Regions from separate parts of the Homo sapiens genome. Here region 1 is linked to region 2. The links come from fine-mapping of genetic effects on gene expression. A gene starts in region 2. The other region holds a variant in brackets. All regions are shown on one strand. Distances are between the middles of the regions. Region 1 overlaps SLC27A1 (solute carrier family 27 member 1). Region 2 holds the start of SLC27A1 (solute carrier family 27 member 1).

Evidence for each region. PIP is the estimated chance that this variant, and not a neighbour inherited with it, causes the effect.
Region 1: its variant is the best candidate, but not a certain one, in a credible set for the expression of SLC27A1 in whole blood (TOPMed, PIP 0.81).

What each region holds. Positions count from the first base shown.
Region 1 is chr19:17,502,997-17,508,357 of GRCh38, forward strand. SLC27A1 (solute carrier family 27 member 1) reads left to right here. Exons shown (of 12, transcript NM_198580.3): 12 at 1,459-3,172. The coding sequence ends at 1,616. All of the region lies in intron 1 of PGLS-DT (PGLS divergent transcript), which reads right to left. Among named protein-coding and RNA genes, the nearest start is that of PGLS, 6.0 kb to the right of the region's middle. RefSeq lists an enhancer at 4,494-5,361. The variant T/C (reference allele first, on the strand shown) is at 2,110.
Region 2 is chr19:17,467,832-17,473,192 of GRCh38, forward strand. It overlaps SLC27A1 (solute carrier family 27 member 1), which reads left to right and starts at 2,693. Exons shown (of 12, transcript NM_198580.3): 1 at 2,693-2,876. The coding sequence starts at 2,710. RefSeq lists enhancers at 1,758-1,887, 3,309-3,810 and a silencer at 2,638-2,767.

The sequences.
Region 1 (5,361 bases), 35 kb after region 2:
ATGGCAGAAGACGAAGGAAAAGCAAAGGGACTTTTTAATGGTGGAGGGCAAGAGAGTGTGTGCAAGGGAACTCCCCTTTAAAAACCACCAAATAAAGCCATCAAATCTCGTGAGACCCCTTCACTATCATGAGAACAGCACGGGAAAGACCCACCCCCATGATTCAACTACCTCCCACCGGGTCCCTCCCACAACACGTGGGAAGTATGGGAGCTACAATTCAAGATGAGATTTGGGTGGGGACACAGCCAAAATATATCAGGGTCTCACTGTGTTGCCCAGGCTGGTCTCGCAGTCCTGGGCTCAGGCAAACTTTTTCTTAAAGGACCAGATAGTTAATATTTTCGGCTTTGCAGGCCATACAGCCTCGATTGCTATTCAACACTGCTATTCTTGTGCAAAAGCAGCCATAGACAATGTGCAAATGAATGAGCATGGCTGTGTGCCAATAAAACTTTATTTCTAAATTTTTATTTATTTTTTGAGACAAGATCTTGCTGTTGTCCAGGCTGGAATGCAATAATGCAATCATAGTTTACTGCAGTCTTCTCCTCCTGGGCTCAAGTGATTCTCCCACCTCAGCCTCCCAAGTAGCCGGAACTACACGCACGTGCCATGACACCCAGCTAATTTAAAAAAAAAAAAAAATTGTTGGCCGGGTGCGGTGGCTCACGCCTGTAATCCCAGCATTTTGAGAGGCCGAGGCGGGCAGATCACTTGAGGTCAGGAGTTCGAGACCAGCCTGGCCAACATAGTGAAACCCTGTCTCTACCAAAATTTTAAAAATTAGCCACGTGTGGTGGTGCACGCCTATAATCCCAGCTACTTGGGAGGCTGAGGCAGGAGAATCACTTGAATCCAGGAGGTGGAGGTTGCAGTGAGCCGAGATCACACCACTGCACTCCAGCCTGGGTGACAAAGCAAGACTATGTCTCAAAAAAAAAAAAAAAAAAAAAAAAAAGGGTTTTTGCAGAGACAGAGTCTCACTATGTTGCCCAGGCTGGTCTTAAACTCCTGGGCTCAAGCGACCCTCCTGCCTTGGCGTCCCAAAGTACTGAGATTATAGGCATGAGCCATTATTGTGCCCGGCCCCAGTAAAACTTTATTTACAAAAACAGGTGGAGGGCCAAATTTGGCCCACAGGATGTAAGTTGCTAAACTCTTATTCACTGTGTAACAGACACAGCCCTGCCTGTCATGTGGGGAATGGACACATGACCAGGCAGGGTGTACATTTTCTTGCCCTGGTGAGGAGTGGTTAGGGAGGCCTCACTGGAGGAGGGGGCATGAAGCCAGGATCTGACAGACAAGGGGGAATCAGGCAGGCAAAATGGGGAAGAACATTCCTGCCCAGGGGACAGCCTGTGGGAAGGTCCAGAGGTGCAGGAGAGGATATTGAGTTGAGGCCTCCCAGAAGCCACCTGCTCAGCCCTTATCTGCCCCCCATCCCCACTATAGGCACCTTCAAGATCCAGAAGACGAGGCTGCAGCGAGAGGGCTTTGACCCACGCCAGACCTCAGACCGGCTCTTCTTCCTGGACCTGAAGCAGGGCCACTACCTGCCCTTAAATGAGGCAGTCTACACTCGCATCTGCTCGGGCGCCTTCGCCCTCTGAAGCTGTTCCTCTACTGGCCACAAACTCTGGGCCTGGTGGGAGAGGCCAGCTTGAGCCAGACAGCGCTGCCCAGGGGTGGCCGCCTAGTACACACCCACCTGGCCGAGCTGTACCTGGCACGGCCCATCCTGGACTGAGAAACTGGAACCTCAGAGGAACCCGTGCCTCTCTGCTGCCTTGGTGCCCCTGTGTCTGCCTCCTCTCCCTGCTTTTCAGCCTCTGTCTCCTTCCATCCCTGTCCCTGTCTGGCCTTAACTCTTCCCTCTTTTTCTTTTCTTTCTTTCTTTCTTTTTTTTTTAAGATAGAGTCTCACTCTGCTGCCCGGGCTAGAGTGCAGTGGTGGGATCTCGGCTCACTGCAACCTCTGCCTCCTGGGGTTCAAGTGATCCTCCCACCTCAGCCTCCTGAGTAGCTGGGATTACAGGCACCCGCCACCACGTCCAGCTAATTTTTATATTTTTAGTAGAGACGGGGTTTCACCATGTTGGTCAGG[T/C]TGGTCTTGAACTCCTGACCTCAGGTGATCCGCTGGCCTCGGCCTCCCAGAGTGCTGGGATTATAGGCGTGAGCCTCTGGCCCGGCCTTTCCTTTTTCCTCTCCTCTCCTGCCGAGAGTGGAACACGCGTGTCCTGGGAGCTGCATCTTGTGTAGGGTCCAGCTGCTTTTGGGGACTGCAGGAATCATCTCCCCTGGGCCCTGGACTCGGACTGGGGCCTCCCCACCTCCCTCTCGGCTGTGCCTTACGGAGCCCCGATCCAGGCCTCCTGTGGCTGTTGGGTTCCAGATGCTGCAGCTCCATGTGACTTCCAAGCAGGCCCTCCGCCCTCCCTGCTGAATGGAGGAGCCGGGGGTCCCCCAGGCCAACTGGAAAATCTCCCAGGCTAGGCCAATTGCCTTTTGCACTTCCCCGTTCCTGTCACATTTCCCCAGCCCCACCTTCCCCTCCTGATGCCCTGAAAGCTTCCGGAATTGACTGTGACCACTTGGATGTCACCACTGTCAGCCCCTGCCTTGATGTCCCCATTTAGCCATCTCCATGGAGCTCCTGCTGGAGGGCCCTGAACCCTGCACTGCGTGGCTGCCCAGCCAGCTGCCTCCTGTCCTGGGAGGAGGCCTCCTGGGTGTCCTCATCTGGTGTGTCTACTGGAGGGTCCCACAGGAGAGGCAGCAGAGGGGTCAGGGGAGGTCTCCTGCCGGGGGTTGGCCTCTCAAGCCTCAGGGGTTCTAGCCTGTTGAATATACCCCACCTGGTGGTGGCCCCTCCGATGTCCCCACTGATGGCTCTGACACCGTGTTGGTGGCGATGTCCCAGACAATCCCACCAGGACGGCCCAGACATCCCTACTGGCTTCGCTGGTGGCTCATCTCGAACATCCACGCCAGCCTTTCTGGGGCCGGCCACCCAGGCCGCCTGTCCGTCTGTCCTCCCTCCAGCAGCACCCCCTGGCCCCTGGAGTGGTGGGGCCATGGCAAGAGACACCGTGGCGTCTCATGTGAACTTTCCTGGGCACTGTGGTTTTATTTCCTAATTGATTTAAGAAATAAACCTGAAGACCGTCTGGTGCCTGCTGGGAGCCCATTCATTGAGTGTCCCTATGTGGCACAGAACCCTTGCTGAGTTTCAGAAGGCAGGACTCGGCCAGCCGGGCATAGTGGCTCATGCCTGTAATCCCAGCACTTTGGGAGGCTGAGGTGGGTGAATCACTTGAGCCCAGGAGTTCGAGACCAGCCTGGCCAACATGGTGAAACCCTGTCTCTACTAAAAATACAAACAAAATAATTAGCTGGGCATGGTGGCTCACACCTTTAATTCCAGCTACTCGGGAGGCTCAGGCAGGAGAATTGCTGGAACCTAGGAGGCAGAGGTTGCAGTGCACTCCAGCCTGGGTGGCAGAGCGAGACTCTGGTTCAAAATAGAAAGAAAGAGAGAAAGGGGGAGGGAGGGAGGGAAAGAGCGAGAGAGGAGAGGAGAGGGAGGGAGGGAGGGAATACAAAAAGTAGCCAGGCATGGTGGTGCGCGCACCTGTAATCCCAGCTACCCCAGAGGCTGGGGCAGGAGAATTGCTTGCGCCGGGAGGTGGAGGTTGCAGTGAGCCGAGATGGTGCCACTGCACTCCATCCTGGGTGACAGAGCGAGACTTTGTCTCAAAAAAAAAAAAAAAAGAAAAGAAAAAGAAGGGACCCTGTACCATGTGGCCCCATCTGCAAGACCAAAGGGACCTTGGGGCAGGGGCACTCGGGTTGGCCCTCTCGCTGGCCTGCCGAGGGGGAGGCACCTCCCTGCAGTGTCTGGGCCTCACAGGCCCTCGTTGACCTTGTGGTTGCAGGGGAGGGATGGCCAGCCTGCCTGTGGGTTCCTGCAGGTGTTGCAGGATGGCTCAGATCACGGTATGTCCTGGCACCTGTGGCTGCCCTGGCAGTGTCCTCTTCCATGTACAGGCCGGCTGGTGTGAGAGCTCTGGGTGAAAGTCGCTAGGCCTGCTGGGGTGGCCGTCTGAGCTGGGATTCGAACCCAGGACTCCAAGCTCAGGAGTCTATACAGTATTCCTCCCAATCGCTGGGGGATATGTTCCAAGACCCCAAATGGATGCCTGAAACTGACCATAATACTGAGCCCTAAATATGTTTTGTTTCTTTTCTTTCTTCCTTTCTTTCCTTTCCTTCTTTTTCTTTCCCTTCCTCCCTCCCTCCCTCCCTTCCTTTCCTTCATCCTTTCCTCCCTTTCTAATTTTAATTTAATTTAATTATTTATTTATTTTTGAGATGGAGTCCTGCTGTCTCCCAGGCTGGAGTGCAGTGGCACGATCTCGGCTCACTGCAAGCTCTGCCTCCCAGGTTCACGCCATTTTCCTGCCTCAGCCTCCCGAGTAGCTGGGACTACAGGTGCCTGCCACCACGCCCGGCTAATTTTTTTGTATTTTTAGTAGAGATGGGGTTTCACCGTGTTAGCCAGGATGGTCTCAATCTCCTGACCTCATGATCCGCCCTCCTCGGCCTCCCAAAGTGCTGGGATTACAGGCGTGAGCCACCGCACGTGGCCTAATTTATTTATTTTTAAGACAAAGTCTTATTCTGTTGCCCAGGCCAGAGTACAGTGGCATGATCATAGCTCACTGCAGCCTTGACCTCCCACACACAAGCAATCCTCCATCAGCCTCCTGCGTGGCTGAGACTACAGATATGCACCATCACGCCCAGCTAATTTTTTGATTTGTTTGCAGAGATGAGGTCCCACTGTATTGCCCAGGCTGGTCTTGAACTCCTGGGCTGAAGCCATCCTCCTGCCTTGGCCTCCCAAAGTGCTGGGATTACAGGTGTGAGTCACCGTGCCCAGTTTATACTGGTTTTTCAATCTCATAACCAGGAGGCTACTAAGTGACAAATGAGTGGGCATGGGGGGAGTGGTGTCTCCAGCATGGATCTGCTGGACAAAGGGGTGATTCATGACCCTGGGCGGGACAGAGAGGGATGGAGCAAGGCAGTCCGAGATTTCATCATGCTCCTCAGAACAGCACGCAATTTGAAACTTATGAATTGCTTATTTCTGGAATTCTCCATTTAATATGTTTGAACTGTGGAAACCTCAGAAAGAGAAACTTTGAATAAGCAGGGACTACTGTACTCTCAACTGACTCTCACCTCTGCTGTCCCCCTCGCGTGTCATAATGTTGGCATCTTGTTTGTTGTCTCTACCTCAGGGGACAGGAGGTGACAGAGCATTTGCTGGGAGAGGACACTGAGGGGGTGA
Region 2 (5,361 bases):
AAAGGGAGGATAGGAAAAAAGGAAGGGGGGAAGAGAGGAGGAGGGCAGGGAGGAGGAGAGAAAAGGGCAGAAAGGAGAGAAGGAGGGAGAAAGAGAGAAGGAGGAAGTGGGGTAAGAGAAGAGAGAATCAGAGCACAAGAAAGGTGGAGGGGAAGTTTAGAGAAGAAAAAGGAGGAGGAGGGGTAAGAAGAGAGGAAGGAGGAGGGAAAGGAGGAGAGGAGGGGAGGAGGGACAGGGAACACTCAGCTGACATTTATGAATGAATGAATCTCAATTCCAAGTAAGCATGACAGCTCCAGTCCTCAGTTTCTTTCTTCCTTCTTTCTTTGTTTCTTTCTTTTCTTTCTTTCTTTCTCTCTTCTATTTTTTTTTTTTTAAGACAGGGTCTTGCTTTGTCACCCAGGCTGGAGTATAGTGACGCGATCTCGGCTCACTGGATCCTCTGCCTTCCGGGTTCAAGTGATTCTGCTCCCTCAGCCTCCGGAGTAGCTGGGATTACAGGTGTGCTCCACCATGCCTGACTAATTTTTGTATTTTTAGTAGAGACGGGGTTTCGTCATGTTGGTCAGGCTGGTTTCGAACTTCTGGCCTCAAGTGATCCACCCAACTCGGCCTCCCAAAATGCTGGGATTACAGGCGTGAGTCACCACGCCCAGCCTGCCCTCAGTTTCTTTACCTGTCAAATGGGGTGATCACAGCGGTGCTACCTGGCTAGGTAAGAGTGCAACTGCAGTTACTGGTCATTGCTGACTCTTCCAGGCCCAGAAAGCAGCAGGCCAGTGGCTGGCTCTGGGCCTGTCCTCCGGATCTTCCTCGTGATCCCTCATTCCAGCCACCCTGCTGCCCGCAGGGACCAATGGCAGCGTAGGGGGTGAGTGCCTGCCCAGCCCTGTCCTCCAAATGCATTGGAATCAGGCCCGGGCCGCCTCCTAAGGAGAACGCTGGAAAGGTCGGCCAAGGAGAGCAGAAAACAAGCAGTGGTGGAGTCGGCAGTGGGGCAGAGGAGGGGGAGCTGGAAGGGAAGGACCCCAAAGCAGAAGCCCGCACAGTAGGCACAGCGCACCCAAGAAGGGTCCAGGAGTCTGCAGAAACAGAAAGGTCCCCGGCCTCAGCCTCCTAGTCCCTGCCTGCCTCCTGCCTGAGCTTCTGGGAGACTGAAGGCACGGCTTGCAGCTTCAGGTCAGCCAGAGAATGGGGTTGTGCGTGCCCCCAGGCCAGCGCTGGCAGCGCCTGGGGGAGCATCTAGGACCCCGGGGTGCAAGTAAAGGGCCTGTAGGTGCTTCTAGGAAGGATGGGGACCTGGCGTGTGGATTTTGTCCTCCCTGGGATCCTGGGGTGTGACGGTGAGACTTAACCGACAAGGCTTCGGGACATGGATTAAGAATTAGCTGTGTCCTTGAATCACACGTGTTAAGACCGCGGCGGTGTTTACAGTTAGAGACTTCTGAGGCCCCAATGGTGTGAGTTGAGCACTCCCCCGGGCCCTGGAACGTGTTTTTAAGACCGAAAGAGGCTTTGGGGCTTGGATTTAGGACAAGCTGGAGCAAGAATACAGCCCGCGCGGGCCGTGGGTGTGGACTGGGATATTTTTGGTCCCCCGGGGTAGAGATCCTGCACGCCAACTAGGGCTCGGGTCCTGATATCTTGCGAGCCACGCCCCAAGGCTGCAGGACACGTGTGTTTCCTAAAAGGAGAGGGGGTGGGGCAAGGCTTGGTTGTCATGGAGACAGCGGACGACCCTGGCGGGCCGTTCTAGCACCCATGTCTCTTTGGCCGTCGCCTCTCCGGTCCGGTTGCCTCTCTATGGTCGTGGCTTCTGGAAGACGGCCGGCCTCGGCTCTGCGGGCTGAGGGGCTTCGAAGTAGACAGGAGGGAAGAGGGGCGGGGCCTAGGTCCTAGGGGGGCCGGAGTGAAACCCAGGAGGTGGCGACCGAGCCAAAGCCTGAGGGCGGGGCCCGTGGCCAGGATAGAACCTGAGCCTGGGAACTTGGGCTAGGCCCGGAACTGGGGTGGGGCTTGAACGGATTGGGGAGGGCTCTAGTTTCGGGAGGGTGGGGCGTGTGCTTATTGCGGGGGGGTGGGGAGGCATATGTCTAACCTAGGGGGTGGGGCCTGGCTGAGAGGGGCGGGACTCGGGGAGAGGGCTTGTACCTGTGGGCTGGGCTAGAAGCATAACCTAAGGGCGGGGCCCAGTGAGTGGTGAAAAGGCCACGGGGTAGAGGCAGGACCAGGAGGAAAGGGGACAGGACGTGAAGGGTAATTCGGGGATCGAGGATAGAGGCTAGATGAAGGCATGTGGCGAGGCCTGACAGTGACCGACAAGGTGGACATGCTGGCTCTGGGGGCGGGGACTGTTGTAAGATTGGCAGGGAAGGATGGGCTCAAAAATATGGAATAGAGCGGACCCAGGGTCCGGGGGCGGAGCCTGGCCAGGACCTGGCCAATCCCAGGCCTGGGGCCCTGGTCTGGTTCCTAGTTAGCGGGCGGGTGTAAAAGCCTGGAAAGGGGCGATGCCTGGCCTGAGGAGTTGACCAATCCCAGGCCTGGGGGCGGAGTCTGACTCGGAGCGCGTTCCCGGACTCGCGGGGGGCGCAGAGCCGAGGCCTGGGGGCGCGGCTCGCTGTAGAGGCGGGGGCGGTCGTGGGGCGGAGCGGGTCGTGGGGCGGGGCTGGAGCGGCCCGCGGCCTCAGCTCTCTCTGCTTCCCCAGGATGCGGGCTCCGGGTGCGGGCGCGGCCTCGGTGGTCTCGCTGGCGCTGTTGTGGCTGCTGGGGCTGCCGTGGACCTGGAGCGCGGCAGCGGCGCTCGGCGTGTACGTGGGCAGCGGCGGCTGGCGCTTCCTGCGCATCGTCTGCAAGACCGCGAGGCGAGACCTCTTGTGAGTGTTGCCGGGATCCGTCCAGGGCTGGGGGCGGGGCTGAGGGCTCTGGGGGCGCACGGTGCAGGGCTGGGTTGCGGGGACGGCTTGGAGGGTCCGGAGAGCTGAGGGTGCTTTGTAGGTTGGGGGCGGGGCTGGGCCGAGGGCTGGGCGGGGGCGGGGCCTGAGAGGGTGACCAGTTGGGGGTCTCTGAGGGGGCTACAGGGGACACTTTAAGGATTTCTCGAGGAAGATGAGTAGCCTCTAAGGTGCTTCGGGCGTTGCAGGCTGCTTAGGAGATGATCTCAGGGGATTTGGGGGGCAATTTGGGGGTCTTTGGGCAACTGGTGGAAATTCCAGGGAGCTGGGGCTGACTGGAAATCCGTGGCGGTGTGGGGGTCTTTTTGGAGCCGTGATAACTGTGAGAGACTTCAGGGGGCTCTCCAGTAGGTCACCGGGGCTCACAGGGACGACCCAATAGATAGTCTCTGGGGGGTTGCCAAGACACTTTGGGTCTATCTAGGGCTTTCTCTGAGGGATGAGCGAGCTGCTCTATAAAGGACTTCCCGGGTTTCTGAAGGTGTGAGTTTCCTCGGGATCGTTTACAGCTGGGGCACTGTTTGAGATTTTGGGGTCTGTGTGGGACTTTGGGTTTGGGAGTTGTTCGGAGTGTGTCGGGAGGCTGCTGTGTATTCCAGGACTTGTTTGGGGGGTCTCTTCTGGAGACTGGGACACTGGATTCATGCTAGGGGGGCAGATTCTGGTGTCCTGTGCAAGGATCCTTGGAGGGTTTTTGCGGTGTCTCTGAGGGACTTGCTCAAACGAGCCGTTGGGGGTCCTTCTGGGATGAAACAGGCATTGCTGGGGGCTTCTATCAGAGCAGACCTCAGGAACAGCACCACGTGGGAGCAGGTGAGCGCCGGCTAGCGGGGCAGGGCTCAACACCTTCACAGCTCCTTGTAAGATGGAGTAGCAAGAGGGACTGAACCCATTGTAAGGAGGGCACAGAGGGTGTGGAGATGGGAAAGATCCCACCGTAAGTTGACTGGTTCTGAACTTTCTAAAACTCACCCCTTCTGCATGCCATGGCCCCCTGCCCCCGGCTCCTTGGTTGTTCTGATGTGGAAATCTGACTGTGCCCTCTGCTCAGACACCTTCCATGGCCAGCCCATCCTTGGCAGAAGGAAGACTCAGCCCCTAGCTGGGCACTCAAGGTCCTACCATCTGTTCCCTGCCCACCTGCCACTCCCCCCATCCATATGTTCACCTGGTCTTCAGAAAGACTTGCAGTGTCAAGCTCAAGCTGCCCAGAACATACTGGACCCCTTTTAGCCAGGGCAGGCTCTCCCTCTGGGAACCTTTGCTGAATTTTCCTGCTCAGCACCCTCCCATAGCTCCTTGTTGCCCTTAGAATTGACGCCATACTGGCCGGGAGCGGTGGCTCACGCCTGTAATCCCAGCACTTTGGGAGGCCGAGGCAGGCAGATCACGAGGTCAGGAGATCAAAACCATCCTGGCTAACACGGTGAAACCCCGTTTCTAATAAAAATACAAAAAAATTAGCCAGGCGTGGTGGTGGACGCCTGTAGTCCCAGCTACTCGGGAGGCTGAGGCAGGAGAATGGTGTGAACCCCGGAGGCGGAGCTTGCAGTGAGCGGAGATCATGCCACTGCAGTCCAGCTTGGGCGACAGAGTGAGACTCCGTCTCAAAAAAAAAAAAAAAAATAGAATTAGAATTGAGGCCATACTCCTGAGCATTGCGCACGAGGTCCCTGACCATGTCCCAGCCTCCGCTTACTTCCCTTTTGTCGCCTAGCTGCACTTACCTTTTGTCTATTGCTCATTTGTTTGTTTGTTTGAGGCAGAGTCTCACTCCGTCGCCCAGGCTGGAGTGCAGTGGTGCGATCTTGGCTCACTGCAACCTCTGCCTCCCAGGTTCAAGTGATTCTCCTGCGTCAGCCTCCCAAGTAGCTGGGACTACAGGCACGTGCCACCATGCCCAGCTAATTTTTGTAATTTTAGTAGAGATGGGGTTTCACCGTATTAACCAGGCTGGTCTCAAACTCCTGACATCACGTAGTCCGCCTGCCTTGGCCTCCTAAAGTGCTGGGATTACAGGCATGAGCCACCATGCCTGGCTCCCTTTTTTTTGAGACAGGGTGTCTTCTCTGTTGCCCAGGGTGGACCAGCCTCCATCTCCTGGGCTCAAGCAATCCTCCCACCTCAGCCTCCTGACTAGCTGGGACTACAAACGCCTGCCTCCGCTCCTGGATAGTTAATAGAATGTTTTTTATAGAGATGAGGTCTCGCTATATTGCCCAGTCTGGTCTGGAACTCCTGGCTTTAAGCGATCCTCCTACCTCAGCCTCCCAAGTGGCTGGGATGACAGGTGCACACCACCACACCTGGCTAATTTTTTTATTTTTTGTAGAGACGTGGTTCTGCCACGTTGCCCAGGCTAGTCTCGAACTCCTGGCCTCCAGCGATCACCCAATTTCAGCCTCCC